4 linked regions of the Homo sapiens genome follow. The protein of the gene in region 1 purifies or fractionates together with the protein of each later gene. This does not show direct contact. Each region holds a gene or a part of one and is shown in the gene's direction. Other genes may lie near its edges.

Region 1 (8,030 bases):
ATGCCTTTCATTAAACCAGTATAACAAATGCATTGGATTTTAAGTGTCTGTGATGTACTTAGATAAATAGTGACAACCTATTTTTTGATCAACCTACATAAAAAATAATTTTAAAGCAGTGTGGTCTCAATCTTAGTAGAAGAGTAGAAAGCAAGATAGTTTCTACTTGGAATAAACAAGTGCACAGTGGAAGTGATTAACTCTTACTCTCAATGTTATCGCTGTTTTGACTTAACACTCAGCTCCAATTGGGGCTGATTGTTATCATGTGAGGTCAGGTAGAAAGGGTGTATCACCTTTACCACGATCACTAATTCATTAAAGGTTAACAGTGAAAATGTTAAAAGGGTTTTTATTTACATGGTGAGACCAGTGGAATAAGTATTTATTGATTTTTGTTTCTCTGTACTTTTCAAATTTATTATGAACCCTTTTTAAAGGGAAAAAATGGACAAACAAAAGGTTTCTGGAGGGTAGGAGTACATTGACATTATATACTATAACTTTAAATATATAAAGTACTAAATAAAGATATTTTTCCCCCTTATAGGGCATTATGCTGGTCTATGACATCACAAATGAAAAATCCTTTGACAATATTAAAAATTGGATCAGAAACATTGAAGAGGTATGTGTGGAAAGAGAATGGTGACATTGGAGAAGAGTCCTGCTGGGTGCTTGTAAAAGGCTCCTCTGTCTGCAAGGCAGCTGAGCTGCTTAGAAGCAGGGCATGGGCAGGTTGGGCCCTCTCTCTCTGAAGAGCTCCATAAATCTCTGGTGCTGCCAGTCTGACTACTGGGGGTTAGGGGGACAGAGAAGTAACGTCACAAGATTTTAAGCTTGGGCCAGATATGGGAAATAATTTAATCCTAGATCACATTTTACACATGAATAACTGAGAACAGAAAGAAGTGATTTGCCTGTGCTCATACAGCCTTTAAAAAGAAGAGCCAGGATTAAAACATCTGGTTCCCAGCTTCTATCCCACCATGCTGTTTGGCTAGCAACAATTATCTCTTTACCTTGGCAACTTTTTGCCCTTCTGACATTTTCTCCATCTTAGATATTTGAAGATTGTTTTAATTCCAGGATAATTGGTATTAAGATTTTTTTAATGTCTTTGTCACTTAAGAAAGAAATCTGACTCTGAAATAATTTTGTACACGTTTCTATAAACTTAGATGAATTTCTTTTTAAAATAGTACAGAATCTAGAATACCATCTCCACTGGTTCACTCAGTACCAAGTTTTTGTCCTTCTTTGACCTGAATATTTGGAAATTTTGTCATTAGATCACCATAAGCTTTATTTGTGTTTGTTCCACCTTCTTTCCAAACCTCGGGAAGAAGGTTTGCACAGGCTCTGTGAGGGCTCTTGTACTGTAGCTTTGCCCCTCTTCCCATCTTTAAACTTTTCTCTGAATTAGGCCTTGTGTGAGTAAAAGATTATGTCTTATTAAATTCATGTGTTTCTGACAGGTTGGATTTGTCTATTAAGTAACGGGTTTTTCTCAGGCTGTTTTTATAGCATGCTATTTTCTCCCTGCAGCATGCCTCTTCCGATGTCGAAAGAATGATCCTGGGTAACAAATGTGATATGAATGACAAAAGACAAGTGTCAAAAGAAAGAGGGGAGAAGGTAAATGTGAATGGAATGGATAAAGGTTGGAATCTACTCACATTAAGCATTTCTTTTCTTCATATTATTTAATTATTGATTTTTTTTAAAATCTGTGTTTTAATCCCTTTAAATTGGATATCAACAACAAAGAGATGTAATCCATACTTGAATGGTGTGAATTAGTATTCGAGATCCAGCTCTCTATACTGTGTGGTCATGACTCATTCCTAAAGAATTTGCTAATGTTTTCTGGGAGATACAAATTGGTCCTTTCTCAGATTCCTGCAGCTTAGAGTTCAGGCTGTTTCTTCCAGATCTGTGTGAAAATGCCCAGTTTTGAAGTTAAAGTAAACATTCTTTTTGAAAAAGAAGTTATAGGGATAGGTGAAGTTTCAACAGGAATCATTTTCCAATTCATTTTTTTCCCTAAGAATATTTTACTACACATTAGCGTTAGGTTTTATGGATAAATTCCTTGTAACTGATCAAGCTATGGATGTCATTTATATGTTGTTTATGGGCATGGGCATTTCTCTCTTTTGTGTCCTGTAAAGCAAAGGAATATTTTGTGTACATATTTACTTCTGTGACAGATTCTAAATTGACTTAGAAGCTTCACTTTTTAAGTCTTGGAATTTTGCTTTAGCCTTTAAAAAAATTATATATGCAAAATGCATTTTCTTTTCTTTTTTTTTTTTTTTGAGACAAAGTCTTGCTCTGTCTCCCAGGCTGGAGTGCAGTGGCGTAATCTCAGTTCACTGCAACCTCTGCCTCCTGGCTTCAAGCAATTCTCATGCCTCAGCCTCCAAGAAGGTGGGATTATAGGCATGTGCCACCACACACATATACCCGGCTAATTTTTGTATTTTTAGTAGAGACGCGGTTTTGCCGTGCTGGCCAGGCTGCTCTTGAACTCCCGGCCTCAAGCAATCCACCTGCCTCGGCCTCCCAAAGTGCTGGGATTACAGGTGTGAGGCACCATGCCCAGCCACATTTTGTTTTTCAATCTGACTGTGAACTTTTGCTGCAAACTTTTTTCCCCTAAAAACATTTACTTAATTTTAGCATTGTAAATGAACTAGGAACTTTTTGAGGAATATATAAGAGTTCGCAATTTGTCTCAATCAATAGAAATCAAAGCATGAATACTTTAGTATTTAAGTTTTTGTTCAATTCTGGACTCATTTATTAAAATTAATTAAGGCCTGGCGCAGTGGCTCATACCTGTCATCCCAGCACTTTGGGAGGCCGAGGTGGGTGGATCACGAGGTCAGGAGTTCGAGACCAGCCTGACCAACATGGTGAAACACTGTCTCTACTAAAAATACAAAAATTAGCCGGGCATGGTGGCGTGCGTGCGTCTGTAGTCCCAGCTACTCAGGAGGCTGAGGCAGGAGAATCACTTGAACCCAGGAGGCGGAGGTTGCAGTGAGCTGAGATAGTGCCACTGTACTCCTCCAGCCTGGGCAACAGAGCAAGACTGTGTCTCAAAAAAAAAAAAAAAGTAATTAAAAGTAAGTATAGTTTTTTTTTTTTTTATTTGAGATGGAGTTTCACTCTTGTCACCCAGGCTGGAGTGCAATTGCACAATTTTGGCTCACTACAACCTCTGGCTCCCTGGTTCAAGCGATTCTCCTGTCTCAGCCTCCCAAGTAGCTGGGATTATAGACGTCTGCCACCACACCAGGCTAATTTTTGTATTTTTAGTACAGACGGGGTTTCACCATGCTGGCCAGGCTGGTCTCTTAACTCCTGACCTCAGGTGATCTGCCTGCCTCGACCTCCCAAAGTGCTGGGATTACAGGCGTGAGCCACCACACCCGGCCTAAAAGTCAATACAGTAACTGTTGGAGAATTAAACTTTGGGAGCAGATAAAAGGAGTGAATGAATCCCAAGATAATGGTAGTTTTACCAGTGGAGGGTCTTGACTACAAGTCAGCCAGATTCTTGGCATTTTGAGCAAAGAATTGGACAAAATGCACACACACAAACAATGAAAGAATGAAGCCAAAACCACAAATTTATCGAAATGAAAGTACACTCCACAGAGTGGGAGTGGGCTTGAGCAAGCAGCTTGAGCACTGGTTACAGAATTTTCTGGGGTTTAAATACCCTCTAGAAATTTCCCATGGGTTACTTGGTTTACACTCTGTAAATGAAGTAGTGGCCCATGACCAGTTTGATTGGTTGCAGAAGGTGACCAATCAAAGGATGAAATGAAGTTACAAAGTTATACCCTGCGCAGACGTCTGATTGGTTGTGGGAGGGGACCAATCAGAGGTACTTTCCATTTTTAATCTGTGAGTCAGAAAAGGGGAGGAGGTTGCAAAGGGAGTAACCCCTGTACTTTTGTTACTTGGGCATGGAAGGCTGGGGTTTTTCTTTTGATTTAGTTCTAGGAAGTCAATGTGAATTGGCCTTAGGTTCCCTGCCTCCAGACCCTATTCTGCTACCTTAGGAGGGTGGGTATTTATCCCATATTAGAGAACTAAAAGTACAAAAACAGAAAAAAAGAGAAGTACTTAAATTATTATTATTATTTTATTTATTTATTTATTTTGAGACAGAGTCTCGCTCTGTCACCTGGACTGGAGTGCAGTGGTGCGATCTCGGCTTACTCCAACCTCTGCCTCCTGGGTTCAAGCAATTCTCCTGCCTCAGCCTCCCGGGTAGCTGGGACTACAGGCGGGTGCCACCACGCCCGGCTAATTTTTTGTATTTTTAGTAGAGGCGGGGTTTCATCATGTTAGCAAGGAGGGTCTCGATCTCCTGACCTCGTGATCCGTCTGCCTCGGCCTCCCAAAGTGCGTGAGCCACCATGCCCGGCCTTAAATTATGTTTGAAATGGAAGTTGTGCCATCCTTCTTACGATGATTAAGTTAAATTATTAAATTCTGAATACAGTAGAAGAAAGCAAAGAAATTTGAGAACCACAGGAGTTCTGAAATAGATACCCTACCTTTGAGACTTTGAAAAACCTAAGAAATACAAATGCATTATGTGTTCAAGTATCTTTTGCTAAATTTAAATATTTCTGTTTACTTTTCAGCTAGCAATTGACTATGGGATTAAATTCTTGGAGACAAGCGCAAAATCCAGTGCAAATGTAGAAGAGGTAAGAAGGAAACGTTTGGTGACTGTTACGGAGCAGCACCAGTGCTTAGGGGCCTGTGTTCAAACAGCTCTCAGAGCTTTGGTATTTTCTGACCTAATGAATGCCTTTTGTTGACCCAACTCTACTTTGTACACTTTTGTGCTTCTGATTTTTTTTTTTTTGAGATGGAGTCTCACTCTGTCGCCAGGCTGGAATGCAGTGGCATGATCTCGGCTCACTGCAACCTCTGCCTCCCAGGTTCAAGCGATTCTCCTGCCTCAGCCTCCCGAGTAGCTGGTACTATAGGTGTGCATCACCACGCCCAGCTAATTTTTGTATTTTTAGTAGAAACGGGGTTTCACCATGTTGGCCAGGAGGGTCTCGATCTCTTGACCTCGTGATCCCCTCTCCTTGGCCTCCCAAAGTGCTGGAATTACAGGCGTGAGCCACCATACCCAGCTGCTTCTGATTTTTATGTAGACGCTGGTTGTTGAATTTCTAGCATCTAGCCTCCACCTGGATTATATTAGCTTGCTCAGTTAAGATTCACAGAATAGATTATGGAAGTTCAGTTTTGCCCTTTTTTTGGGCAGCTGGAAATCCTGGACTAGAAGACCAACCAGTATCCTGTGCTCATTCATGTCACCCTGTATGCCTGCAGCAGAAGAGTTAAATCACTTTTAAGGCTGTACTCTCTCAAGGGAGAATTAAGCTGTTAGTTTATTGGACACATTCCTTTAGCGTACACATTTGAGGTAGATTAAGCACAATAAATTGTAACAGTGGCATTTAGTGGAAATAGGAAAGTGTTTATCAGGGAGTAGCTTTAATAAATTTTCATTAAGTTAGCTGTTAAGGAAAACCAAACCATCTAAAGTCTTATGAGAATAGGTTTTCTTCAATACCTAACGTAGATGACTGGTTGATGGTTGCAGAAAACCACCATGGCACGTGTATACCTAGGTAACAAACCTGCATGTTCTATACATGTATCCCAGAACTTAAAGTGTAAAAAAAAAAAATAATAGGTTTTCTTCACCAAGGGAACTGTTATTTTTTTTAAAAAACATTTTTTCAACTGATCATAAAAATAATACGTGTAATTTACATGTGATATGTGTTAATACATGTAATTCTTTTAATAATACTGATAGTTTCATAAACATTTAATTTCCTAGGTTACTCATTGTTCATCATAACATGATGGTTAAAAATCGAGACCTACATGACTTTATTAGCCAGTGGACACTGATCAGAACTTTTTCTTTGTTTTAAATAACGTAACAGTTATTTGTTTAGGTTGGCCGATGGGTGTTAGGAAACAGGAAGCCTCTACTGATTTACTTACACAAGCTTAGATAAGCAGAAAAATGCTTCCCTCTGCTTGATACAAAAGGATTTCCCGCCATCAGAAATAATCCAAGTTAAAAATGGACAAAAGATCTGAATAGACATTTCTCAAAAGAAGACAAATAAATGGCCAACAGGTATATGAAAAAATTCCCGACATCAGTAGTGATCAGGGCAATGCATATCAAAAGTACAGTGAGCTATCATCTCACCCCAATTAAAATGGCTTTTATCAAAGAGATAGGCAATAACAAATGCTGGAAAGGATGTAGAGAAAGGGGAACCCTCATATACTGTGGGTAGGAATGTAAATTAGTACAGCCACTATGGAGAACAATAAAAAAACTAAAAATAGAACTACCATATGATCCAGCAGTCTCACTACTGAGTATTTACCCAAAAGAAAGGGAATCAGTGTATCCACCTAAGTGTCCATCAGTGGATGAATGGATAAAGAAAATGTGGTATGTATACACAATGGAATACTATTCAGCCATAAAAAAAGAGTGAAATCCCATAATTTGCAACAGTATGGATAGAACTCCCTGAACTGGGAGTTGCCTGAGCTGCTTATTCTAGCAAGGCATACAGATGGTAACAACTTTGCCAGAGCTTTAAATCAGTGTGGTTAGGCTCATAGGTGACAAGTTTGACAGTGAGACACTGACAATGAGTAATAATAGTAGTTGTCGTATTGTTTTTATTTGATTGGATTGGAAATAATCCTTTTCCTGAACAGTTTTTGGGGATCAGGAGTGTTGGGAACAAAGAGGTTGATTTAACAATAGGTTTAGCATGGTGACAAATGAAGAATCTTTAACAGTTCCTGGCTTCATAGAAAAAGTGATGATGGATTTAAAAAATATTTGGTTTGTATCAAGAGACATTATGGATAAATTATCACGAAGATTAATCAGATTTGCCCTGCTTCTATTCGAACTGACTTCCATGGTGGGGAATTTAGCCGAGAGCTCCAGGAACTGTTGGGATTTTGGAGTAAGACATGGAAGATTATACATATTCAGCTATAAGAGTGAGAGCAATTTGAAAGAAAAAGCCAGAAATAAAAAGTAGAGATTTTTGTGAAGACATTTTAGAGCTATAGGGTAATACATAATTATTTATTCACTCATTAAACCAGATAGTCAGCATTTCCTAGATCAGCACTGTGCCCTGCTCTAGGGAAGTGGGGTAGCTTAGACAGAGCTTCTGTCCTGTTCTTGGTGTACTGAAGAAGTTACTCGTGACTCAACAAGGGTGTTATTGTGATATTATATCACATGAAGAAAATATTTGATGAATGAATGATAGTTTGATAACATTGGAAAATGTTTATGATACAATCTCAAAAGAGTAAACACATGCATACTATGATTACAATTATTACTTTCTTAATGTAAAGCTTTAAAGTGGTATATTTATATTGAAATAATGAAAAATTCTGTATTTCTGTTTTAAAATAAGTCAGGCATGGTGGCTCACACCTGTAGTCCCAGCTACTTAGGAGACTGAGGTGGGAGGATTGCCTGAGCCCAGGAGTTCCAATTCAGCCAGGGCAACATAGCAAGACCCCATCTCTGAGGCGGGGGGAATATATATATGTGTATATATATATATATACATATATATAGTGAATATATAATAATGAAAATGTTTTGTTTTACCTATAGGCATTTTTTACACTTGCACGAGATATAATGACAAAACTCAACAGAAAAATGGTTTGTATCACTTATAATTTTTATTTCCATTATGCTGTCTGTTTGGCATTTGATGAAAAGGATAGGTCTAATTATAAGATACTCAAATTAAACTCATTTTTTTCCTGACTCAGATACTCATTTGGTTGAACTCTGATTCTTAGTTCTGTTTGTTTAGGATTCTTATTTCTGAGCTGCCACTGTTTCAGTCCTTTCTTCTGGCTCTTTAAGTGATCTTTAATTGAATTTTGATGAGAATAATGAA
Region 2 (7,689 bases), on another chromosome or scaffold:
TCACATAAAACATTGCAGTTGAAGTCTGATGACAATCTGATTTTTTTTTTTACTAGACCACTTGGTGTTGGTCATTCTGGGTTGATACTCTCAAGTTTGCAATGTCTTTTTTTCAATATCTACTTTTTAAGTATTTTTTTTTAAGTTTTCTTGATTTCTTTTGTTCCCTTTCGTTGGTCTTCATCTATAAGAACTGCTATTACTCATATTTTGGGTCTTTGCTCATTTTTAGTATTTGTCACTTTCTCCCTTTTATTTTTTTTTAAAAAAAGCAATCCTTAGGTTTGACTCTGATCTTTTTCTCATTTCTTTTTAATTTTTATTGCTAATTCTTTTTGGTGTCTAATTTCTGAATTTTCTAATTCTGATTTAGGTTATTCTTTCATGTCTTGTATCTTTTTGTTTTGTTTTGTTTTGAGATGGAGTATCGCTCTATTGCCAGGCTGGAGTGGAATGGCGCCATCTCGGCTTCCTGCAACCTCCTCCTCCCGAGTTCAAGCGATTCTCCTGCCTCACCCTCGCGAGTAGCTGGGATTACAGGCGCCCAACACCATGCCTGGCTAATTTTTGCCTTTTTAGTAGAGACGGGGCTTTGCTACGTAGGCCAGGCTGATGTTGAACTCCTGACCTCAGGTGATCCGCCCGCCTCAGCCTCCCAAAGTGCTGGGATTACAGGCATGAGCCACCGCGTCCGGCCTCTTGTATCATTTTCTTTTTTTTTTTTTTTTGAGACGGAGTCTCGGTCTGTCGCCCAGGCTGGAGTGCAGTGGCGCGATCTCGGCTCACTGCAAGCTCCGCCTCCCGGGAGCCTCCTGCCTCAGCCTCCGAAGCAGCTGGGACTACAGGCGCCCGCCACCATGCCCAGCTAATTTTTTTTTTTTTGTATTTTTTAGTAGAGACGGGGTTTCACTGTGTTAGCCAAGATGGTCTCGATCTTCTGACCTCATGATGCGCCCGCCTCGGCCTCCCAAAGTGCTGGGATTACAGGCTTGAGACACCGCGCCCAGCCTTGTATCATTTTCTTAAAGACTTAGCTCACTCTGCAATAGGATGCAGTTTGATTTGCTTCCTGGGCACATTTCTGGCATGCTTTCACTGTCTGATATTGTTCTATTCTTTATTCTCTTCATGTGAAATTGATTTTTCTAAATTTTTAGAAGGAAGTGTGGTTCAGGATTGCTTTTCTGATTTCACGTACTCCTCAAACGTTTGACTCCCATTGGACATCCTTCCTTCTGCACATTCATTTTTGCATGGTAGTTTTTTCATATAACCACCCTAAAACTCAGCTTGGCAAAGATAAAATGTCATCAAAAGGAATGTAGGGCAGTCCTATTGAAACTGAGCTCTACATCAAGCCCAGAGCCTGACAGGTGTCAAACGTCACTGTTTATTTCACATTTAAAATATAAAATATACCATGGTGTCCCTGTGAGTTTGCTGTGGTTCCCTGGGACACGTTAGCTCACAATTTGGGGATCACAATCCCAGGTGATGCTGATATTGCTGATCAGGAGACCACACTTGGATGTTTGGCTGTTTTTTGTTTGTTTTCCCCAAAAAACCTACAGGAAGTAAAAAAAAAAAGTACAAGAAGAAAGACTTTCAAAACTTGTACTGCCAGCCATGAAGAAAATTTCTTCCTTTGGACCCATGTACTCATGTATTTATCAATTAAAATGAAATTATTGAAATCAGTTTGGAAACAGTTGTATATGTGTGTATTTGTGGGAGAGCATGCTTGCTTGCAGATGCACACACACCTGCTATGTTTGTTGGGAAAATTAGTATGTGTTCATTTGCTGTAGTCTAGCTTTCTTACTGGAGGGAAAAACTACTTTGAGTAGACAGGAAGGAACAAAAAAAGCATGCTTGCATCCTCATTGACCTTAATGTTCAAGGACATTTGGTGGTAAATAATTGAATTTCCTTTGTAACCTGCCACAGTGAATTTGATTGACTGCTAGTTTGAGATGTGATTGATAAGCCTGCCAAATTTTATAAAGAAAACTTTATATAATGTTTACATTTATAAAATGTTTATGTTTTATAAAGAAAACTTTGTATCTCTCAAGAGAGGGAAATCCAGATTGCCTGGTACCAGCATTTATCATACAGAGAATCTTGGATGTTACTCCCAGTAAAATGTGCCCCTAATTTATACTATAATGAAAATAAAACATAGTTGACCTCTAAAAGAGCAATCAACTGCTTTCAAGTGAACTGCCACATAATGCTAATTAGTTGAAGATTATGCTCTGTTCTCCTTAATGAATTATAAAAAGCAAAACACTAAAAATTAACTCGGGAAGACAAAGTAACTGGTGCTTCCTGCATTTTTCCTTGTTCTTTGTCTTTCTAGGATCCCAGGAAATGTGGGCAACTCATGAGAAGGTAGTGCCCTGGATGGAAGTTAGCTGAACAAAATCAGCTTACTCTAAGCCCTTCTGGCCTCAGCCCCTTTTCTGGATTTTAAGAAATCCAGCAATTGATACAAGATTATAGAGTATACCACTCAGTGAAGTTCAGAGTTCTACTACAGAAAGCCCAAGCCTTGATTTACACTTAACATCTAGGAGAAATGGGAAAGAATCTAGCCATTACTTTCCCCAACAGAGGGATCTGTATAGATGAGATGACCAGCGTAGCAAGCAGCCTGCTATTACCTAATCTCTCACCCAGGATTAACATTAACATGGGCTTTCTAACATTTCACTTTTTACAAACTAGTCTTTAAGATCTTTTTTTTTTTTTTTTTTTTGAGTCTCGCTGTGTCACCCAGGCTGGAGCTCAATAGAGTCACCTCAGCTCACTGCAACCACCATCTCCCTGGTTCAAGCAATTCGCCTGCCTCAGCCTCCTGAGTAGCTGGGATTACAGGCGCACACCACCACACCCGGCTAATTTTTTATGTTTTTGGTAGAGGCAGGGTTTCTCCATGTTGGCCAGGCTGGTCTCGAACTCCTGACCTCAAGTGATCCACCTGCCTCAGCCTCCCAAAGTACTGGGATTACAGGTGTGAGCCACCATGCCCAGCCTAGTCTTGAGGTTCTTAAGATATATAGAAAAAGGAATGTAGATTTTGTTAAGCCTTGCTCTTTTTTTAAGACTGGTTTTATAAATTACAAAGACAAATCCTAGGTTAGAAGAGGCCATCAAGATCAAAGTATTTCTTCCTTAAAAGGATGAGTTTTCATTGTTAATCAGAGGCTAGTTTTAACGGTAGTACTTAAATTAACTGTCCTAGTAGAAAGCTGGAACCTGGAAACTCCTTTATTCTGCCTCTGTAGAAATGGCTTTATACGCCGGGCGTGGTGGCTCATGCTTGTAATCCCAGCACTTTGGGAGGCCGAGGCGGGCAGATCACCTGAGGTCGGGAGTTCCAGACTAGCCTGACCAACATGGGGAAACCCCATCTCTACTGAAAATACAAAATTAGCAGCGGGTAGAGGTGCATGCCTGTAATCCCAGCTACTTGGGAGGCTGAGGCAGGAGAATTGCTTGAACCTGGGGGTGGAGGTTGCGGTGAGCCGAGATTGTGCCATTGCACTCCAGCCTGGGCAACAAGAGCGAAACTCCATCTCAAAAAAAAAAAAAAAGAAAAAAGAAATGGCTTTATACACTATTATGGCAACAATTGAGCTCCTGGTTTCGGTGGACAGTAAATGTTTATCTTACAGTTGTGCTGGGCGAGAAGTCAGGAAAAGGAGCTGAGTGTGTAACTGTGATTTCCTTTTCCGTAGTGTGTTCCATGGGAACCGGTACAAGCAGACTCTATAGTGCTCTCGCCAAGACACTGAACAGCAGCGCTGCCTCCCAGCACCCAGAGTATTTGGTGTCACCTGACCCAGAGCATCTGGAGCCCATTGATCCTAAAGAGCTTCTTGAGGAATGCAGGGCCGTCCTGCACACCCGACCTCCCCGGTTCCAGAGGGATTTTGTGGATCTGAGGACAGATTGCCCTAGTACCCACCCACCTATCAGGGTTATGCAATGGAACATCCTCGCCCAAGGTATGCTGGATGCTTTTGTGCCTCTGCAGTCAAGTTTGCTGTGACTGCCTTTCTGCTTCTGCACATCCACAGTGCACTGTTTTATGTGGAAGGAAGAGGTGTGGGCAGATGGAGGTGACTGCAGCAGCATGGAGAGCTCCTAGAAGAGGTTAAGACAGGGAATCATCTGGTTTTCACTTTTTTTTTTTTTTTAGAAAGAAAAAAGACACTTTAATTGTTCTTGGATAGTCTACAAACATGGAAGGTGTAAAGAATAAACCACGAGTTACTTGCTTTAATTGTAAAAACCAAGTCAGGTGCAGTGGCTCACACCTGTAATCCCAGCACTTTGGGAGGCCGAGGTGGGTGGATCACCTGTGGTCAGGAGTTCGAGACCAGCCTGACCAACATGGAGAAACCCCGTTTCTACTAAAAATACAAAATTAGCCGGGTGTGGTGGCGCATGCCTGTAATCCCAGCTACTCGGGAGGCTGAGGCAGGAGAATCGCTTGAACCCAGAAAGTGGTGGTTGCAGTGAGCTGAGATTGCGCCATTGCACTGCAGCCTGGGCAACAAGATCGAGGTTGCAGTGAGCTGAGATTGAGCCACTGCACTCCAGCCTGGGCAACAGAGTGAGACACTGTCTCAAAAAAATATGTATATATATATATATATATATATACACTTTGTTACAGTAGTAAGGACTTCTTTCCTGGGTCTGCCAAATTAAAAAACAGATGTGTCAATCAACTCTATGTAGCATTGCCTTTTATGTAAGCAGTTGAGATTTTAAGAAAAACAAGGGCCTGATTTTTTTTTTTCCTGGAAAATAAGGGGAGATTCCGTGACTTACCAATCTTTGATTCTTTTTCCCTAAGTAGGAAAAGCTGCCTATTTAAAATAAGTTCCATTCATTCTGAGTAGTGTCCATAATAGTCAGGGTTAAAACTAATACTTGGTGTTAAATATTTGGTGTTTAAAAAAACCAAAAAAATTTTAAAAGAAAATTGGCATTTATTTCATTTTATATAGCTTAGATCCCTGGCACTGCAAAGCAGTTTCCTTAAGTAAGATCTTAATATCCTGGAATATAGTTAACATGAAATCATTTCGAAACAAAAGATCTGTTGTTTGCTTCATCCACATAGTGAGAGGTGATTTAGTTTGGATGGGGTAATACAGTTTGGACAGAGAGCCACTCCAAGCATTTAAAGCAGAGGAAGCATTCTGAGGGTCTTGAGTGATGCCAAACCTCCTGGGTACTTTGAAGTCACGGTTTTGTAAGAGCTGACAACTGACTAGCTTTTTCTTTTCAGCTCTTGGAGAAGGCAAAGACAACTTTGTACAGTGCCCTGTTGAAGCACTCAAATGGGAAGAAAGGAAATGTCTCATCCTGGAAGAAATCCTGGCCTACCAGCCTGATATATTGTGCCTCCAAGAGGTGGACCACTATTTTGACACCTTCCAGCCACTCCTCAGTAGACTAGGCTATCAAGGCACGTTTTTCCCCAAACCCTGGTCACCTTGTCTAGATGTAGAACACAACAATGGACCAGATGGTTGTGCCTTATTTTTTCTTCAAAACCGATTCAAGCTAGTCAACAGTGCCAATATTAGGCTGACAGCCATGACATTGAAAACCAACCAGGTGGCCATTGCACAGACCCTGGAGTGCAAGGAGTCAGGCCGACAGTTCTGCATCGCTGTTACCCATCTAAAAGCACGCACTGGCTGGGAGCGGTTTCGATCAGCTCAAGGCTGTGACCTCCTTCAGAACCTGCAAAACATCACCCAAGGAGCCAAGATTCCCCTTATTGTGTGTGGGGACTTCAATGCAGAGCCAACAGAAGAGGTCTACAAACACTTTGCTTCCTCCAGCCTCAACCTGAACAGCGCCTACAAGCTGCTGAGTGCTGATGGGCAGTCAGAACCCCCATACACTACCTGGAAGATCCGGACCTCAGGGGAGTGCAGGCACACCCTGGATTACATCTGGTATTCTAAACATGCTCTAAATGTAAGGTCAGCTCTCGATCTGCTCACTGAAGAACAGATTGGACCCAACAGGTTACCTTCCTTCAATTATCCTTCAGACCACCTGTCTCTAGTGTGTGACTTCAGCTTTACTGAGGAATCTGATGGACTTTCATAAATACTTGCTTTTGTCTTTTTAATCACAGGAGTCTATTTTTTTTTTTTTTTTTTTTTTTTTGAGACAGAGTCTCGCTCTGTTGCCTAGGCTGGAGTACAGTGGCCTGATCTCGGCTCACTGCAAGATCCGCCTCCCGGGTTCATGGCATTCTCCTGCCTCAGCCTCCAGAGCAACTGGGACAACAGGCGCCCGTCACCACGCCCAGCTAATTTTTTGTATTTTTAGTAGAGACGGGGTTTCACCGTGTTAGCCAGGATGGTCTCGATCTCCTGACCTTGAATCACAAGAGTCTTAACAGGGAATGTTTCAGGAAACAAATAGGATAAGACAATGCCAGAGGAAGGATAGAAACATGGGAAGTTTCTATCATTTCATTTTCTGCGTTTCCAGCATGCCCTTGGAAAAGACTCCCTTTAGTCCCTTTTTCAATTAAAACCTATGGTGAAAAAGGCGTTTGCACTCCAATTTTGGCTTGTGTTGTTTTCTTTTCCTTAATATTACATTTTGATCATTTAAGGGCATTAAATTGGCTTGTTTTGGTCAGGTGTGGTGGCTGCTCATGCCTGTAATACCAACACATTGGGACGCCAAGGTGGGAGAATCACTTGAACCCAGGAGTTCGAGTCCAGCCTGGGCAACATGGCACGAGACCCCATCTCTATTTCTAAAATAATAATAAATTCGGTTATTTTGAAGCTTTTTCAATTTGAGGATGCTATAAAAACTTAGACTTGTTGCTTGAATCTTCCATAATAGTATGTAGGAGCAATTTCTCTAAACAGCATTTTAAGTTATTTATTTGTGGGTTTTTAAAATGTCAACAAAATGCATGGCAGTATTTATTTTTTATATCTTCATATAAAATTAAGTAAATTATAGCATTATGAACATTTTAGAACCATGCAAGAGAAGTTATAGAGAAAGTAATTTATGGTGATTTTCATAAAGCTTTAAAATATTTTCATTTGGGCTATAACAAAATGAGTACAAAGGAACTATTTAGCCTGGAGGGGCTTTTGTTATTTAAATGTCAGATTTCTTTGATACATTCTTCAAAAATAATCCTTGTCCTGCCTCTATGTTCCATTATTGTGTTTCTTTTTTTTTTTTTTGGAGACAGAGTCTCACTCTGTTGCCCAGGCTGGAGTGCAGTGGTGTAGTCTCGGCTCACTGCAAGCTCTGCCTCCCAGGTTCACACCATTCTCCTGCCTCAGCCTCCCAAGTAGCTGGGACTACAGGCGCCTGCCACCACGCCCGGCTAATTTTTTGTATTTTTAGTAGAGACGGGGTTTCACCATGTTAGTCAGGATGGTCTCAGTCTCGATCTCCTGACCTGGTGATCTGCCCGCCTTGGCCTCCCAAAGTGCTGGGATTACAGGCGTGAGCCACAGCGCCCGGCCTTATTGTGTTTCTTGAAGAGATTCCAATTAGTTTTCAATTATTTAACCAATTAGTTTTCATTATTGCTGTTATATTTAAACTTTACCATTGGAATAATATTGGTATGCGTTTGATATTAGTCACTCGATGTCATCATTATTTGTA
Region 3 (8,030 bases), on another chromosome or scaffold:
CTCCAAAGTACTGGGATTACAGGCGTGAGCCACCGTGCTCGTCCAAAGACCTACCTCTTTTCTAAAGTCCAACTCAGTATCTCCAAACTAGTTGACATTTCTATATGCGTTCAACCTCAAAGACATCATGATATAATTAAATACTGTGGGGCTTTACAGTTGACAATACACATTCATGTATATAGCCTTTTAAAAAGTAATAGCTCAAGGTAGGTTAGTTAAATAAAATACGTATAGTGTCATACTGCTCAGACTAATAGAGAAGGTCAAAGATGAAATTCTTAAAATGAAAGCTCATTTCTAAGTAAGTCCATACTCTTAATAATTATGGAACCAACATGCTAAGGAAAAATTGTTAATTAATAAATCTAATTTCCATTATTGTAATCAAATTGCACTGCTCTTTAGCCCCTCATCACTGTGGTAGATCGCTTAGAGGGTAGTGAAAAAGAGGCTTAGGCTGAGCGTGGTGGCTCAGTCCTGTAATCCCAGCACTTTGGGAGGCTGAAGCGGGCGGATCACCTAAGGTCAGGAGTTCGAGACCAGCCTGACCAACATGGTGAAACCCTGTGTGCTACTAAAAATACAAAAAATTAGCTGGGCGTGGCATTGCATTCCTGTAATGCCAGCTACTCGGGAGGCTGAGGCAGGAGAATCGCTTGAACCTAGGAGACAGAGGTTGCAGTGAGCTGAGATTGAGCCACTGCACTCCAGCCTGAGCAGCAGAGAGACTCTGTCTCAATAAAAAAAAAAGAAAAAGAGGCTTAGATTCTGATATGTACACATTTATTATTTGTGAGCTTCAGAAACAAAAATCTAGTATAATTTTAATTGAAATTTGTTTTTGTTCTTGTGATATCTTAAATGCATTATTTTTCAAGCTGGCATTAAACCTTAAGGTTTATTGGATCTTATTAAATAAAAATGCAGTTTCATATTTTATATCTTAATGTTTGTGACATTATTATGGCTATGCAGGGATCCTTGAGTCTCAAATGTGTATCTTTTTAAACAAGTGATTTTTGAAGTAACTATTTTTTATCATTATTATAGAGTTAAGAATTGGCAATATATTCTTTAAAACATGGTCTCTTTCAGTAATGTAGTGTGTTAGGAAGAGGGTAATGAAGTAACGTGCCATATTTAATCAGGATGATCAGATTAGCTTCAAAAAAGTGATGTCAATTTTGTTTTGCAGAATGCTGAACTATTAGTTTATAAAATTTTACTTGAATGGTATTGATTTACTGATAGTCTTTACTGACTTATTAGTTGCTCAGACTAATGGTTTAGATTGATTTTTGAGATTCCTTTTTCTTTGTATAGTAAAGCTAATTTTCCCATTTATTTATTATAGATGTAACATTCATTTTTAATATTTATTGAGTTATAGGCATTAAGAGTATCTTAATATAGGAAATAGTCAAATCTGTTGCATTTAACCATACGGTTAACATGCTAGATAATACTGTTTACATTATTGATTTTATCTCTCTGATATTACTTATGAGATGTTGAAAGATTAAATCAATTTCTCCCATACATGCCAGCAATAATCATCATCTTCACTTTTTGAGAAAGACATATCTCATATAAACCCAGACTTCTAGAATTACAGAAGTACCTTATAATTTGACTTTTTCAGTGTAAATGCATCACAAATATTTTTTTCTTTTTTTGATGGGGTAGGGAGGTTCACTGGACTGATTTCTTCTTATAACTACCTGGCTTTGTGTAAGACTATAGATTCTTATCCAAAACCCTCAGGGCCTGGTGTATTCTATCATTAAGATTAAAAAAATATATTTTAGAAAGTAATGAAGTACATATACTGATATGTTATATGTTAGGTTAAATTATTAGCAGGGTCTGAGGAGGAACTCTAACTAAACACATTATTTCTGCAGTGAAATATATGAATATTTATGTTAATTTGGACAAACAAAGCCAGAGTGCCTTATCAGTATGGATCAGGTTTTGCTGCTAAACATGTTTTGTAAAAACTTATGGATTGCAAAGTTTTTTGAATTTTGAATTTCAGCTAATCAATTCTGAGCCTGTAATAGATTGTGTTATGTATTATAATATTTATAGGTATGATTGTTTCTACAAATAATAAAAAATATAGCAAAATTATGTATCTTTATTGTTTTCCAATTTTTCTACTATTTCAACTTTTATCTTGTAAAATATTTTCTTTGTACAGCTGCTGTATTCTCGAGGATTACTAATTGATCTTCTAATCAAATCTAATGTTAGTCGATATGCAGAGTTTAAAAATATTACCAGGATTCTTGCATTTCGAGAAGGACGAGTGGAACAGGTACTGTGCTGATCAAGAATTGTAACTGGGCATCAGCTTAAGTTATTATGGTTTGTTTTGGAAAGATAAGCAAATAAGATTGTTATTTTCCTCATAAAGCAGTAAATTCCAGTCCTCCGTGGTGATTTACAAATGTAAATGCTTAATTAAAATTTCTAGTGCTAATTTTCTCATGGCTTACTCTGCAGCTTGGTGTTGGTACCAAGCAGCACACAAAAAACCAAAAAGCACACCAGAGTTACTATACCCAAGACTAGTCACACAAATCCTTTTCTCCCATTAATCAAGATTTTGGAGAGGGAAAAGAAAGAAACGGTGATTTTTGCTGTCCACTTGATCAGATTCCACACAGAGGAGGAGGCCCGGAGCCTGGTTGGGAAAAAATTCTTACCCTTATGACAGCTGATCAGATCCTGGGTTCTTCACTGCAGCTTCCAGAAGAGCAGAGCTTTGCTATCCTGCTCACAGCACCAAAACTGTAGGGGCCAAGGGAAACACTCCCTCTTAAGCCTCTGAAGTTTCACTGAAAAATCAACTCACAAAGGCAGATTAATTGGAGAAAAGGCATAAAAATGTACTAACATGTACATAGGGAGAACCACAGTGTTTGTTTTAGATAGCACTGCTAAATTTTTCTCTGTTAGGATGACATGCCGTTGGCCTTTTAATGGCATGGGGAGTAACTTGGCAGAATTAAGTAAGAAAGCTCACAATTAGCTCTGAAGTTAGCAGAGATGCCATTAGTACTGATGGACGGTGATGTGAAAAAGCCTGGCTAGAGTGGAAACGATAATCCTGTTATATGTAAAGGGGAAAAAAGTGTAATTTGGAATAGTTATATCATTAGGAAGCAGTTTCTTAACTTAAAATCATAATATTTTTCAGGTTCCGTGTTCCAGAGCAGATGTCTTTAATAGCAAACAACTTACTATGGTAGAAAAGCGAATGCTAATGAAATTTCTTACATTTTGTATGGAATATGAGAAATATCCTGATGAATATAAAGGTATTTTTTTCATTAAGTAGTGCTCTCCAATTATTTGACATTTCTTACTATTTTAATATGCTTGCTCTGATTTAGTGAGCCACTTATTACTGTTTTAAAATGCATTCTAACTCTGCACTATCAATAGGTTAGCCATTAGTAACATTTAGCTATTTAAATTTAAATTAATTAAAGTGAAATAAAATAAAATAAATTCAGTTTCTCAGTCTTATTAGCTGTATTTCAAGGGCTCCCATAGCCCCATGTGGCTACAGTGCAGATATTTTCATTGCTGAAGTGGCATGCTAGATTTTAATTTTTATTCTTATTATTTAAATACTACTGTCAACTGGCTCTTCATAGATGATAATCTGTTTTCATGATTCCATTATTTTTTCTCATAAGTAAAAATACTATATATTTTATCATTTTCCAGGATTGCTTTTGCATAGAATCTTGAACTATTTCGTTTGAAAAAAAAAGGCTAGATGGTATATGGGGAAAAATACTGGATTCAGAAAAGGCATGGTTTCTATTCTTGGCTTTGACCTATTTCATTATGTGATCTGGGGCCAGTTACTTCATTGTCTGTTAAAAATTGAATATGCCATTTTAGTGTCAGAGCTATATACTTTAAGTCCATTGGTCTGAAAATGTTATCCAAAATTGGAATATACTATTGATAATTTATTTATAAAGTTACAATGAGAAGTGCAGCGATATTTTTTTTCCTCTGTGAAATAATGAAAGTCTAATCCTTGCTCTTAAAGCTTCAAGTCTACTAGGTACTGTCATGTTGTTATCCACAGTGGCTGTGTAAAATTCAATTCTCTCAGTAAATTTTCATAATTTTTATTTATGTAAATTATTTCTGTAAAGTTTTTGTCTTTTATCATGGGATTTATTTCCCACCACTAACAGTCCAATTACATTATATTCTGTTCTTGGTTTAAAGGAGTAACTTCTGGGGGTCCCGTATGTTTTGATGTGATTATGTGGCCATAAGACTGATTCCAGTAGCCACATGGAAATTCATTTCATTATTTTTTAGTTTATTTTCTGAGTATCAGTGAGAAGTATACGTTTTACAAAACTCACATATTTATCATTTTAAATCAATACATTCCCATGTTGTCATAGTTGTTTAATATTTTCAGTACCATTATTGGCATTATCCTGCAGGTTTCATGATAATAAAGTGAGATTATTGCCAACTATGACAACCCATTGAGTTATTTAATATTTTCTAGTTTTTTTTAAATCCATGAAATGCTCAATCATAATTCATCATTTAAAGCTAAAAATTGTGCCATTACTCCAAATAAGAGAGAGAGATTGTTTCCATTTTTTCCTAAGATCAACCATCAGTGTCCAAAATGTAATACCACCTATGTCCTTTGTGAGGTCTGTGAAACACACTTCATCTCCTTTTTGTGGGGTGGTTTTAAATAGAAGTTTAGTTCTGATTTTAAGTGATAAAATTTCATCTTTTCATAGGATATGAAGAGATCACATTTTATGAATATTTAAAGACTCAAAAATTAACCCCCAACCTCCAATATATTGTCATGCATTCAATTGCAATGACATCAGAGACAGCCAGCAGCACCATAGATGGTCTCAAAGCTACCAAAAACTTTCTTCACTGTCTTGGGCGGTATGGCAACACTCCATTTTTGTTTCCTTTATATGGCCAAGGAGAACTCCCCCAGTGTTTCTGCAGGTAAGTTTGCCATTGATTTTCTTGTCCCTTCTAAAAGTGATACTTGAATAACAGATGAAAATTAGGCAGGCAAAAATGAGATTTATTCAAGATTTAGTATATGCAAATATATACTTTATTCTATTTATTTTTTATAATCTATTTACCTACCTATCTACCCACCTAAGTGATATATTCAGTGTGGCCTCTTTTTGAGCTTGATAAAAATACTATAAATTCCTTTTTCCACTCAATAGCATGATGGAAAGTATTGTCATTGCATATAATTTTAGTTAATTTTTTATTACTATATAGTATGTTATTGTGAATACACCACAATCTATTTTTTCATTTTTCTGTTGATGAACACAGGATGTTTCCAGTTTTTTGAGGTTAACACCCTTGTGTATGTTTCAAGTTGTGTATGTTCAAGAATTTCTCTCGGAAACATATCTAGGGGTGGAATTCCCCAGTCCTGAGATACATGAATGTTAACACTTTACAACATCGTGTTCAGTTATTTCTCTAGAGGGCTGTACCAATTATAACCTTTTAGCCGTACATAAGAATACCCAAAGCTTTACATGTTTGCCAACATTTAAAATTTTTTTGTCAACCTAACTCACATAAATTATCATTGCATTGGATTTTTATTTTTCATTTCCCTAATTACCTATGAAGTTGAACCTTTTCTCATATGTTTACTGGCCATTCATGTTTTATCTTCAGGGAATACTTGTTTGTGTCTTTTTTTGTTTGTTTTACACATTTTTAAAAATTTTTATTTTTTGTGGGTACATAGGAGGCATATGTGTTTGTGGGGTACATGAGATAGTTTAATACAGGCATGCAAAGTGTAATCCATCATGGTAAATGGAGTATCCATCCCTTCACACATTTATCCTTTGTGTTGAAAACAATCCAATTATACTCTTCATTTTAACATGTACAATTAAATCATTATTGACTGTAGTCACTCTGTTGTAATATCAAACACTAGATTTTATTCATTCTTTCTAACTACGTTTTGTACCTATTAACCATTCCTACTTATCCGCTGCCCCCTCAAAACCCGCCCCAGGCTCTGATAACCATCCTTTTACTCTCTGTCTCCATATGTTTAATTGTTTTAATTTTTAGCTCCCGCAAGTAAGTGAGGATATGCATTGTTTGTCTTTCTGTGGCTGGCTTATTTCACTTAATATAATGACCTCCAGTTTCATCCATGTTGTCATGTTGTTGCAAATGTCAGGGTCTCATTCTTTTGTTTTTTTTTTTTTGGGAGATGGAGTCTTGCTCTGTCACCCAGGGTGGAGTGCAGTGGTGTGATCTCGGCTCACTGCAACCTCTGCCACCCAGGTTCAAGTGATTCTCCTGCCTCAGTCTCCTGAGTAGCTGGGATTACAGGCACGTGCCACCACACCTGGCTAATTTTTGTATTTTTAGTAGTGATGGAGTTTCAGCATCTTGGCCAGGCTAGTCTTGAACTCCCGACTTTGTGATCCACCCATCTCAGCCTCCCAAAGTGCTGGTATTACAGGCGTGAGCCACCATGCCCAGCCAGGATCTCGTTCTTTTTATGGCTGAGTATTACTCCAAGGTGTAACTGTACTACATTTTCTTTATCCATTTATCTGTTGCTGGGCACTTAGGTTGCTTCCAAATCTTGGTTATTGTGAACAGTGCTGCGACAAATGTGGTATGTAGATATCCCTTTGATACACTGATTTCCTTTCTTTTGGGTATATACCTAGCAGTGGGATTGCTAGATCGTATGGTAGCTCTATTTTTACTTTTCTGAGGAACTTCCAAACTGTTCTCCACAGTGGTTGTACTAATTAACACTCCCACCCACAGTGTTCAAGGGTTCCCTTTTCTCCGTATCTTTGCCAGCATTTGCTAGTGTCTTTCTTTTGAATAAAAGTTATTTTAACTGGGGTAATAAAATATCTCATTGTAATTTTGATGTGCATTTCTCTGATGATCAGTGATGTTGAACACCTTTTTATATGTCTCCTTGTCATTTGTATGTCTTCTTTTGAAAAATGTCTATTCAGATCTTTTGCCCAATTTTTAGTCATATCATTAGATTTTTTTCCTGTAGAGTTGTTTGAGCTACTTATATATTCTGGTCATTAATTCCTTGTTAGACGGGTAGTTTGCAGATATTCTCTTTCATTCTGTGGGTTGTCTTTTCACTTTGTTTATGGTTTCTTTTGCTGTGCAGAAACTTTTTAACTTCATGTGTTCCCGTTTGTCCATTTTTGCTTTAGTCGCCTGTGCTTGTGGGGCATTGCTTAAGAAATCTTTGCCCAGACCAGTGTCTTGGAGGTTTTCTCCGATGTTTTCTTGTAGTAGTTTCAAAGTTTGAGGCATTAGATTTAATTCTTTAATCCATTTTGATTTGCTTTTTATATACTGCAAAAGATAGGGGTCTAGTTTCATTTTTCTGCATACAGATATCCAGTTACCCCAACACCCTTTATGGAAAAGACTGTCTTTTACCCAGTGTATATTCTTGGCACCTTTGTCAAAAATGAGTTCACTGTAGGTGTGTGGATTTGTTTCTGGGTTCTCTATTCTGTTTTTTTGGTTTATGTGTCTGTTTTTATGCCAGTACCATGCTGTTTTGGTGACTATAGTTCTGTAGTATAATTTGAAATAAGGTAATGTGATTCCTCCAGTTTTATTATTTTTGCTCAGGATAGCTTTGGCTATTCTGGGTCTTTTGTGTCTCTATATACATTTTAGGATTTTTTTTATTTCTCTGAAGAATGCCATAGATATTTTGATATAGATTGCATTAAATCTGTAGATTGCTTAGCATAGTATGGACATTTTAACAATATTGATTCTTCCAGTTCATGAACATGGAATAGTTTTCCATTTCTTTGTGTCCTCTTCAATATCTTTCATCAGTGTTTTATAGATTTCATTGTAGGAATCGTACACTTCTTTGATTAAGCTAATTCCTAGGTATTTAATTGCATTTGTGGGTATTCTAATTGAGATTACTTTTT
Region 4 (8,030 bases), on another chromosome or scaffold:
GATAATTTACTGGAGAGGTGAACTGCTCATGCAGAGATGATTATTGTCACATAGAGTTTTAAGATATTCAAACACTTGAGCTCACCACATTAGCAACAAAAGGTGGCTCCAGAGTTATTACAGTAGTACAGTATGTACTGCAGTTAATCTTACGCAGTTAAGACTTAATACTACATCTTTCTTTGTTTACAGTGGCACCGTGTATGGTCTGTGTTTGTGTGCCTAAGTTTTGTGATTAAATTTTAACTTTGAAATAGAATTGCATATATTTATGATAGTAAATAATATCTACATATATTTTAGCATTCATGACATACATAACTTTTTTCTAATTTTTTTGGTATTTCTAGGCTATGCGGTTCATCTGCAAGTTTTTTCAAATTGTCACAAATCTGCTGGGCATGTTGCTGTGCACCTGTAATCCTAGCCACTTGGTAGGCCAAGGCAGGAGGATTGCTTGAACCCAGGCATTTGAGGCTGTACTGTGCTATGTTCACACCTGGGAATAGTCACTGCACCTCTAGCCTGGACGATATATCCTTATATAGCAAGACCCTATCTCTTAAAAAAAAAATCATTTGGCCGGCTACTGTGGCTCATGGCTGTAATCCTAGCACTTTGGGAGGTTGAGGTGGGTGGATCACTTGAGCCCGAGAGTTCGAGATCAGCCTGGGCAACATAGTAAGACCCCTGTATCTACAAGAAATAGAAGAAAAATTAGCTGAATACCCTGTAGTCCCAGCTACTCAGGAGGCTGATGCAGGAAGATTGCTTGAGCCCAGGAAGTTGGTGGCTGCAGTGAGCTGTGGTTGCGCCACTGCACTCTAGTCTGGGTGACAGAGATCTCATCTCAAAAAGGAAAAAAAAAAAATCAAGTAAAATAAAACGTAGAACTGAAAGAAAAAACAAACCTGGCTGGGCATAGTGGCTCATGCCTGTCATCCCAGCACTTTGGGAGGCTGAGGCAGGCGGATCACTTGAGGTCAGGAGTTTGACACCAGCCTGTCCAACATGGTGAAACCCCATCTCTACTAAAAATACAAAAAAAAATTAGCCAGGTCTGATGGTGCATGCCTTTAATCCTAGCTACTCGGGATGCTTAGGTGGGAGTATTGCTTGAACCTCAGGGGCAGAGGTTGCAGTGAGCCGAAATCGCGCCACTGCGCACTCTAGCCTGGGCGACAGAGTGAGACTCCTTTTAAAAAAAAAAAAACATGCAAACCTCCAAAAATTTTTTCAGTACATTTATTGACAAGAAAAAATCTACATCAAGCTTGTCCTGTCTGTGGCCTATGGGCTGCATGTGGTCCAGGGTAGCTTTGAATGCAGCCCAACAGAAATTTGTTAACTTTCTTAAAACATGAGATTTTTTTTCACAATTTTTTTAAAGCTCATTAGCTATCGTTAGTGTATTTTATGTGTGGCCCAAGGCAATTCTTTTTCTTCCAACGTGGCCCAGGGAAGCCAAAAAATTGGACACCTCTGATCTACATAAAAAGTGGCAGTTCAGATGTGTTATTCAAGGGACAACTGTAAATACAGAAAGGCATATCCCATGGTGATCCATTGCTGTGGGGGAAAGAGGAAGGAGGGAGTGTGAGAAGGACGCTTTAAATAAAGTGATCTGGGAAGGCATCAGCATAGATAAATAGTAGTTGTAAAAAATTATCTACCTAGTAGGGACTAGGTGCAGTGGCTCACACCTGTGATTCCACACTTTAGGAGCCTGGGAGTTTGAGACCAGCCTGGGCAACATGGCGAGACCTTGTTTCTATGGAAAAAAAAAAAACACAGTAGGAAACACGTTATTGATTTGAACTTTTTCAATTAGGAGTTTTTCAGAATGAGCACTGGGTGTTTGAAGTATTTGTAATACAATTATATCTGGTTCTCATGCTGTTAACAGCTAGTCATTGAGATCACTATTTGGCGCCATGCATAGCAACATGGAATTAAGGGATGGAAAAACAGCCAGGACGTCTCTACTGTGCTGTGTAAAACAGGAGTGGCACTGATTTCTATCCCTCTCTGGGTAAGGATCAGGTAATGGAGGAAAATAAAGGAGAGGAAAGAGAAGGAAACATGATAGATTTTTATTTTGATTAAAACAAAAGTTGGTAACAGCAACTCAGGTTTCTATTAAATAAACAAAAGTTGGGAGATACTCCAAAATAACTGTTAGTAATAGCTTTAAGTTCTGACAGGCTGTGCCGACCGGAATATGATACCTAAGTTTTAAGTGCATTGAAATAGTGATTCATGTTTCCTTTTGCCTGTCTTATACCCAGCTCTTACAACTACACTTGTGTCTTAAGTATAGTGCTGATGTGGTAATAGGATATTTCTATTCAGCCTTATGCCTTTACTGTGTGTACATTCTGTCCATTTAAAAGGCTGAATTGTAAATCTTAATTTTAAAAAATTAAATGTAGTCAGTTGTCATTAATAGCCTCATGTTTCTTTTTTTTTTTTGAGACGGAGTCTCACTCTTGTTGCCCAGGCTGGAGTACAATGGTGCAATCTCGGCTCAGTGCAATCTCTGACTCCTGGGTTTATCAAGCGATTCTCCTGCTCCAGCCTTCCAAGTAGTTGGGATTACAGGCGTGCGCCACCACACCCAGCTAATTTTGTATTTTTAGTAGAGATGGGGTTTCACCATGTTGGTCAGGCTGGTCTTGAACTCCTGACCTCAAGCGATCCACCCTCCTCAGCCTTCCAAAGTGCTGGGATTATAGGCGTGAGCCACTACGACCTGACCAGCCTCATGGTTTTAATTTTCAGTTTTGTTGGCTGGAAAATGATCTTGGATGTAATATTAAATCTATCAAAACATTAAGCTGTCAATAGAAACATTTGAGAGTTTGTTTTTAAAACTGTAGTTGTATTTTAAAAATAGCTGTACAGCTTAGGAATGGGGGGAGAAGGGAGATAAAATCAGAAAATTTTCTTTTTTGTTGGCTATTTGTCTATCATCTATGATTAGTTGAAATACAGCCTAGTAATAAAAGCTGAGGATTTATAAAGTGGTAATTTGTAGCTTCTTCATCTGTTTTTTAGTGTAAAATGCAGCGAATTGGTTGCTTATGTAGGACTTCAGTAAAATAAGTGACTAGCAGCAGTAGCAGCAGCATCGAAATTTTATCGAGGTCAATTTGTTCTTGTTATCTTAAGCTGTTATCATTAAGTGCCCGGTTGTATCTTAGCATACAGAGGCGGAAAAGCAAGAGCATTCAGAATTTAGGCAATTGGCTGAGTGTAGATCAGAGTTGTCAAAGGGAGACTCTTCAGATGGGTGGCTTCATGGATACTTGTTCAGAGTCACATTTACCTTGTACCTAGTAAGAAACATAATTTGACATTTTTCATTCAGTTAAGTAGTAGTTTTAATTACTTGTAATTGTATGGTAGAATTGAAGACTTTATAAGTAACCTGTTATAATCGTGTCAGTTTAAGGTGTTGTGAAACTGGAAGCCATGCTGTCCAAACTCCCATATCTTAAATTGCATCCTGCATTTTAGGCGCGGTGGCTCATGCCTGTAATCTCAGCACTTTGGGAGGCCGTGGTGGGCGGATCACCTGAGGTCAGGAGTTTGAGACCAGCCTAACATGGTGAAACCTTGTTTCTACCAAAAGTACAAAAATTAGCTGGGCGTAATGGCGGTTGCCTATAATCCCAGCTACTCGGGAGGCTGAGACAGGAGAATCGCTTGAACACGGGAGGCAGAGGTTGCAGTGAGCTGAGATTGCGTCATTGCACTCCAGTCTAGGCGACAGAGCAAGACTCTGTCTCAAAAAAAAAAAAAAAAAAAAAAATTGCATCCTGCATTCCGCAGTTGATAACAAGGCATGTTTAAACTTTGCTCTCATACTTCGTTCTCCTCAATGTCTGATTGTGAGTGTGCTTTTTGAAAAATTCTTTTTTATTTAGGCCTAATGGGATTGTTTGAAAAACGTCGCTTCAGGAAATTCCTAGTGTATGTTGCCAACTTCGATGAAAAAGATCCAAGAACTTTTGAAGGCATTGATCCTAAGAAGACCACAATGCGAGATGTGTATAAGAAATTTGATTTGGGTCAAGACGTTATAGATTTTACTGGTCATGCTCTTGCACTTTACAGAACTGATGAGTAAGTATTTTGGTTTTTAGATTTGTATTTTTCTTGAAATTCTCACTAAATTTCCCAAGTCTTCCAAGTGGAAATTCTAACAAAACAAATACTTAGCCATATTGCACTATGAATGAAGAGGTTCTAGTTGAAATTAGTGTTGGGACCTTTTAAGTGATTTAAATATAAAGGTAGTGGGCCAGGTGTGGTGGCTCACGCCTGTGATCCCAGCACTTTGGGAGGCCAAGTTGGGTGGATCATTTGAGGTCAGGAGTTCAAGACCAGCCTGGCCAACATGGTGAAACCCCCTCTCTACTAAAAATGCAAAAATTAGTTGGGCGGTAGTGGTGCGTCCCTGTAATTCCAGCCACTTGGGAGGCTGAGGCAGAAGAATCACTTGAGCCTGGGAGGTGGAAGTTGTGGGGAGCCGAGATTGCACCACTGCACTCCAGTCTGGGCGACAGAGTGAGACCCTGTCTCAAAAAACAAAAAAACAAAAAAGAAGATAGCGGATTGAAATCGCTTCAAAAAAAATTATAAATTGAACACCATGAATGAAAACTAAAGCCCTTTCCTAATACTCATTTCCTTTCTTCCAGTTACTTAGATCAACCGTGTTATGAAACCATTAATAGAATTAAACTTTACAGTGAATCTTTGGCAAGATATGGCAAAAGCCCATACCTTTATCCACTCTATGGCCTTGGAGAACTGCCCCAAGGATTTGCAAGGTAAGAGCCTGTGTTTAAAACCTCAGTGATCCAAAACCTCATCTTCAACATAATGTGTATATGAGATATAGTTTAAATAATGAGATGAGATCAGTCTATGAGTAATAAGATGCTTTTTATTTTTATTGAAATAAAATTAACATATAATGATATGCATGGATCTTCAGTTAAAAAAAATCCAGTTTTATACAACTGTAGCTGATGTGCTCTTGTAAGTGCCAACTCCTGGCTGGAGGCCAGCCAATACAAAACCAGCGCACTTAACAAAAATACAACCAAGGACCTTCACAGAATCTACTTCACACCCCTGTTACCTCCACCAGAGTAAGTGCTGGTATCCACGCCTGAGAGACCTGGAGACAGATCACATCACAGGACTCTTTGCAGACACTCTCCAGTACCAGCTTAGAGCCTGATTATCTCCACTGGGCGGCTAGATCAAGAAGAGAAATAACAATCACTGCAGTTTGGCTCTCAGGAAGCCCCATCCCTAGGGGAAAGGGGAGAGCACCACATCAAGGGAGCATCCCTGTGGGACAAAAGAATCTGAACAGCAGCCCTTGAGTTCCAGATCTTCCCTCTGACATAGTCTATCCAGATGAGAAGGAACTGGAAAAACAACTGGGGTAATATGACAAAACAGGGTTCTTTGACACTCTGAAAAGGTCACACTAGCTTACCAGCAATGGATCTAAACCAAGACAAAAATCTCTGAATTGCCAGAAAAAGAATTCACAAGGTCATTATTACGCCAATCAAGGAGGCACGAGAGAAAGGTGAAGTCCAACTTAGCAAAACAAAAAAAGTGATACAGGATATGAATGGAAAAATTTCCAGGAAAATAGCATAAATAAATAATCACAACTTCTGAAAATCAAGGGACACACTTAGAGACATGCAAAATGCACTGGAAAGTCTCAGCAATAGAATTGAATAAGTAGAAGAAAGAAATTTCAGAGTTCGAAGACAAGGCTTTTGAATTAGCCCAATCTGACAAAGACAAAAAAGAATTTAAAAAAATGAACGCAGCCTCCAATAAGTTTGTTAAACAACCAAGCCTAAGAATAATTGGTGTTCCCAAGGAAGAAGAAGAATCTAAAAGTTTGGAAAACAAATTTGAGGGATTAATTGAGGAAAACTTCCCCGGCCTTGCTAGAGATCTAGACATCCAAATACAAGAAGCTTAAAGAACACCTGGGAAATTCATCACAAAAAGATCATCACCTAGGCACATAGTCATCAGGTTAACTAAAGTCAAGATGAAGGAAAGAATCTTAAGAGCTGTGAGTCAAAAGCCTCAGGTAACCTATAAAGGAAAACCTATCAGATTAACAGATTTCTCAGCAGAAACTCTAAAAGCTAGAAGGGATTGGGATCCTATCTTGAGCCTCCTTAAGTTATCAGCCAGTAATTTTGTATCCAGTGAAACAGAGCTTCATAAATGAAGGAAAGTAGTCTTTTTCACACAAACAAGTGCTGAGAGAATTTGCCACTACCAAGCCAGCACTACAAGAACTGCTAAAAGGAGCTCCAAATCTTGAAACAAATTCTCAAAATACCAAAATTGTATCTCCTTAAAGCATAAATCACACAGGACCTATAAAACAATAACACAATGAAGAAAAAAAACAAGGTGTTCAGGCAAACAAATAGCACGATGAATAGAATAGTACCTCAAATCTCAATACTAATGTTGAATGTAAATGGCCTACATGCTCCACTTTAAAGATACAGAATAGCAGAATGGATAAGAACTCATCAACCAAGTATCTGCTGTCTTCAAGAGATTCACCAGACACAAAAGGACTCAAATTTAAGGTAAAGGGGTGGAAAAATATATTTCATGTAAATGGACACCAGAAGCGAGCAGAAGTAGCTATTCTTATATTTTTTATTTTATAACTATATATATTTTAAAAAAAATCAGTTTGATAAATTTATAGACCTATCCCTGTCCTGGGTTTAACTAAAACCTGAGTGAAGGTATAGAACATTTTCCTCACCCCATAAAGTTCCCTTGTGTCACCTCATAATGAATACTGCCCCCCATCCCCAGCAACCACCTCTGTGATTTCTGTCACTATAGATTACTTTTGCTTGTTTTCAAAGTTCATGTAAAAGGAATAATACAATATGTTCTCATTTGTGTCTTTTTCATTTTTTGAGATTCATCCATATTGATGCATGTGTCAGTAATTCTTTTTTTTGGAGATGGAGTTCCACTCTTGTTGCCCAGGCTGGAGTGCTGTGGTGCAGTCTCAGCTCACTGCAACCTCCACCCCCTGGGTTCCAGTGATTCTCCTGCCTCAGCCTCCCAAGGAGCTGGGATTACAGGCATGCACCACCACATCCGGCTAATTTTTTATATTTAGTAGTGATGGGGTTTCACCATGTTGGTCAGTCTGGTCTTGAACTCCTGACCTCAAGTGATCCACCCACCTTGGCCTCCCAATGTGCTGGGATTACAGGTGTGAGCCATTGTGCCTGGCCAATTCTTTTTTTTTAATTGTTGAGTAGAATTCCTTTGTATGAATTATATGAGCATATAATTCTCCTTTTGGTGGACATCTAGTTAGTTTTCAGTTTTTGGCTATTATGAATGAAGGCACTGTGAAATTTTTATGTAAAACACTTTCTGTGGGGATATAGGTTTTCATTTCCTTTTGGGTAAATACTGGGAGTGAAATTGCTGACTAATGTGGCAGATAGAAGTCTGAATTCATAAGAAACTGTAAAACAGTGTTCTGGAGTGGTTGTGTCATTGTGTATACACTCAGCAGTGTATGAGAGTTCTCGTTGCTCCACATCCTTGTCAACATTTAGTATTGTAAGTTTTTAATTTTAATTGCCCAAGTGGGTGTGAAATGCTATCTCATTATGGTTTTAATTTGTATTTCTTGACTCATGTTGCTCACCTTTTCATGAGCTTATTGACCATTTGTATAATTTTGTGCTGTGATTGTTCAAGTCTTTTGCACATTTCTAAAGATTGGATTGTCTTTCTGTTTTTGACTTGTAGGAGATCTTGGTGTATGATGGTGGCAAGTCTTTTGTCATATATGTATTAAGAATATTTTCTCCCAGTTTATGGCTGGTCTTTTGATAAGCATAAGTGTTAACTTTTTTTTTGAGATAGAGTCTTGCTCTGTTGCCCAGGCTAGACTGCACTGGCATGATCTTGGCTCACTACAA

What was found.
Region 2: the proteins of RAB8B (region 1) and NOCT purify together in Homo sapiens (affinity purification with mass spectrometry; 2 studies listed by BioGRID and IntAct, with this or other methods). This does not show direct contact.
Region 3: the proteins of RAB8B (region 1) and CHM purify together in Homo sapiens (affinity purification with mass spectrometry; 2 studies listed by BioGRID and IntAct, with this or other methods). This does not show direct contact.
Region 4: the proteins of RAB8B (region 1) and GDI2 purify together in Homo sapiens (affinity purification with mass spectrometry; 3 studies listed by BioGRID and IntAct, with this or other methods). This does not show direct contact.

What each region holds. Positions count from the first base shown.
Region 1 is NC_000015.10:63,254,957-63,262,986, forward strand, and holds part of RAB8B (ras-related protein Rab-8B), read left to right. Parts: exon of another isoform or gene 1-550; coding exon 551-628; intron 629-1,548; coding exon 1,549-1,638; intron 1,639-4,670; coding exon 4,671-4,736; intron 4,737-7,735; coding exon 7,736-7,786; intron 7,787-8,030. UniProt on the Homo sapiens protein: The small GTPases Rab are key regulators of intracellular membrane trafficking, from the formation of transport vesicles to their fusion with membranes.
Region 2 is NC_000004.12:139,039,331-139,047,019, forward strand, and holds the end of NOCT (nocturnin), read left to right. Parts: intron 1-3,743; coding exon 3,744-4,013; intron 4,014-5,308; coding exon 5,309-6,144; 3' UTR 6,145-6,609; downstream 6,610-7,689. UniProt on the Homo sapiens protein: Phosphatase which catalyzes the conversion of NADP(+) to NAD(+) and of NADPH to NADH. Shows a small preference for NADPH over NADP(+). Represses translation and promotes degradation of target mRNA molecules.
Region 3 is NC_000023.11:85,953,154-85,961,183, reverse strand, and holds part of CHM (rab proteins geranylgeranyltransferase component A 1), read left to right. Parts: intron 1-2,206; coding exon 2,207-2,323; intron 2,324-3,208; coding exon 3,209-3,329; intron 3,330-4,805; coding exon 4,806-5,031; intron 5,032-8,030. UniProt on the Homo sapiens protein: Substrate-binding subunit of the Rab geranylgeranyltransferase (GGTase) complex.
Region 4 is NC_000010.11:5,781,950-5,789,979, reverse strand, and holds part of GDI2 (rab GDP dissociation inhibitor beta), read left to right. Parts: intron 1-3,929; coding exon 3,930-4,128; intron 4,129-4,706; coding exon 4,707-4,838; intron 4,839-8,030. UniProt on the Homo sapiens protein: GDP-dissociation inhibitor preventing the GDP to GTP exchange of most Rab proteins. By keeping these small GTPases in their inactive GDP-bound form regulates intracellular membrane trafficking.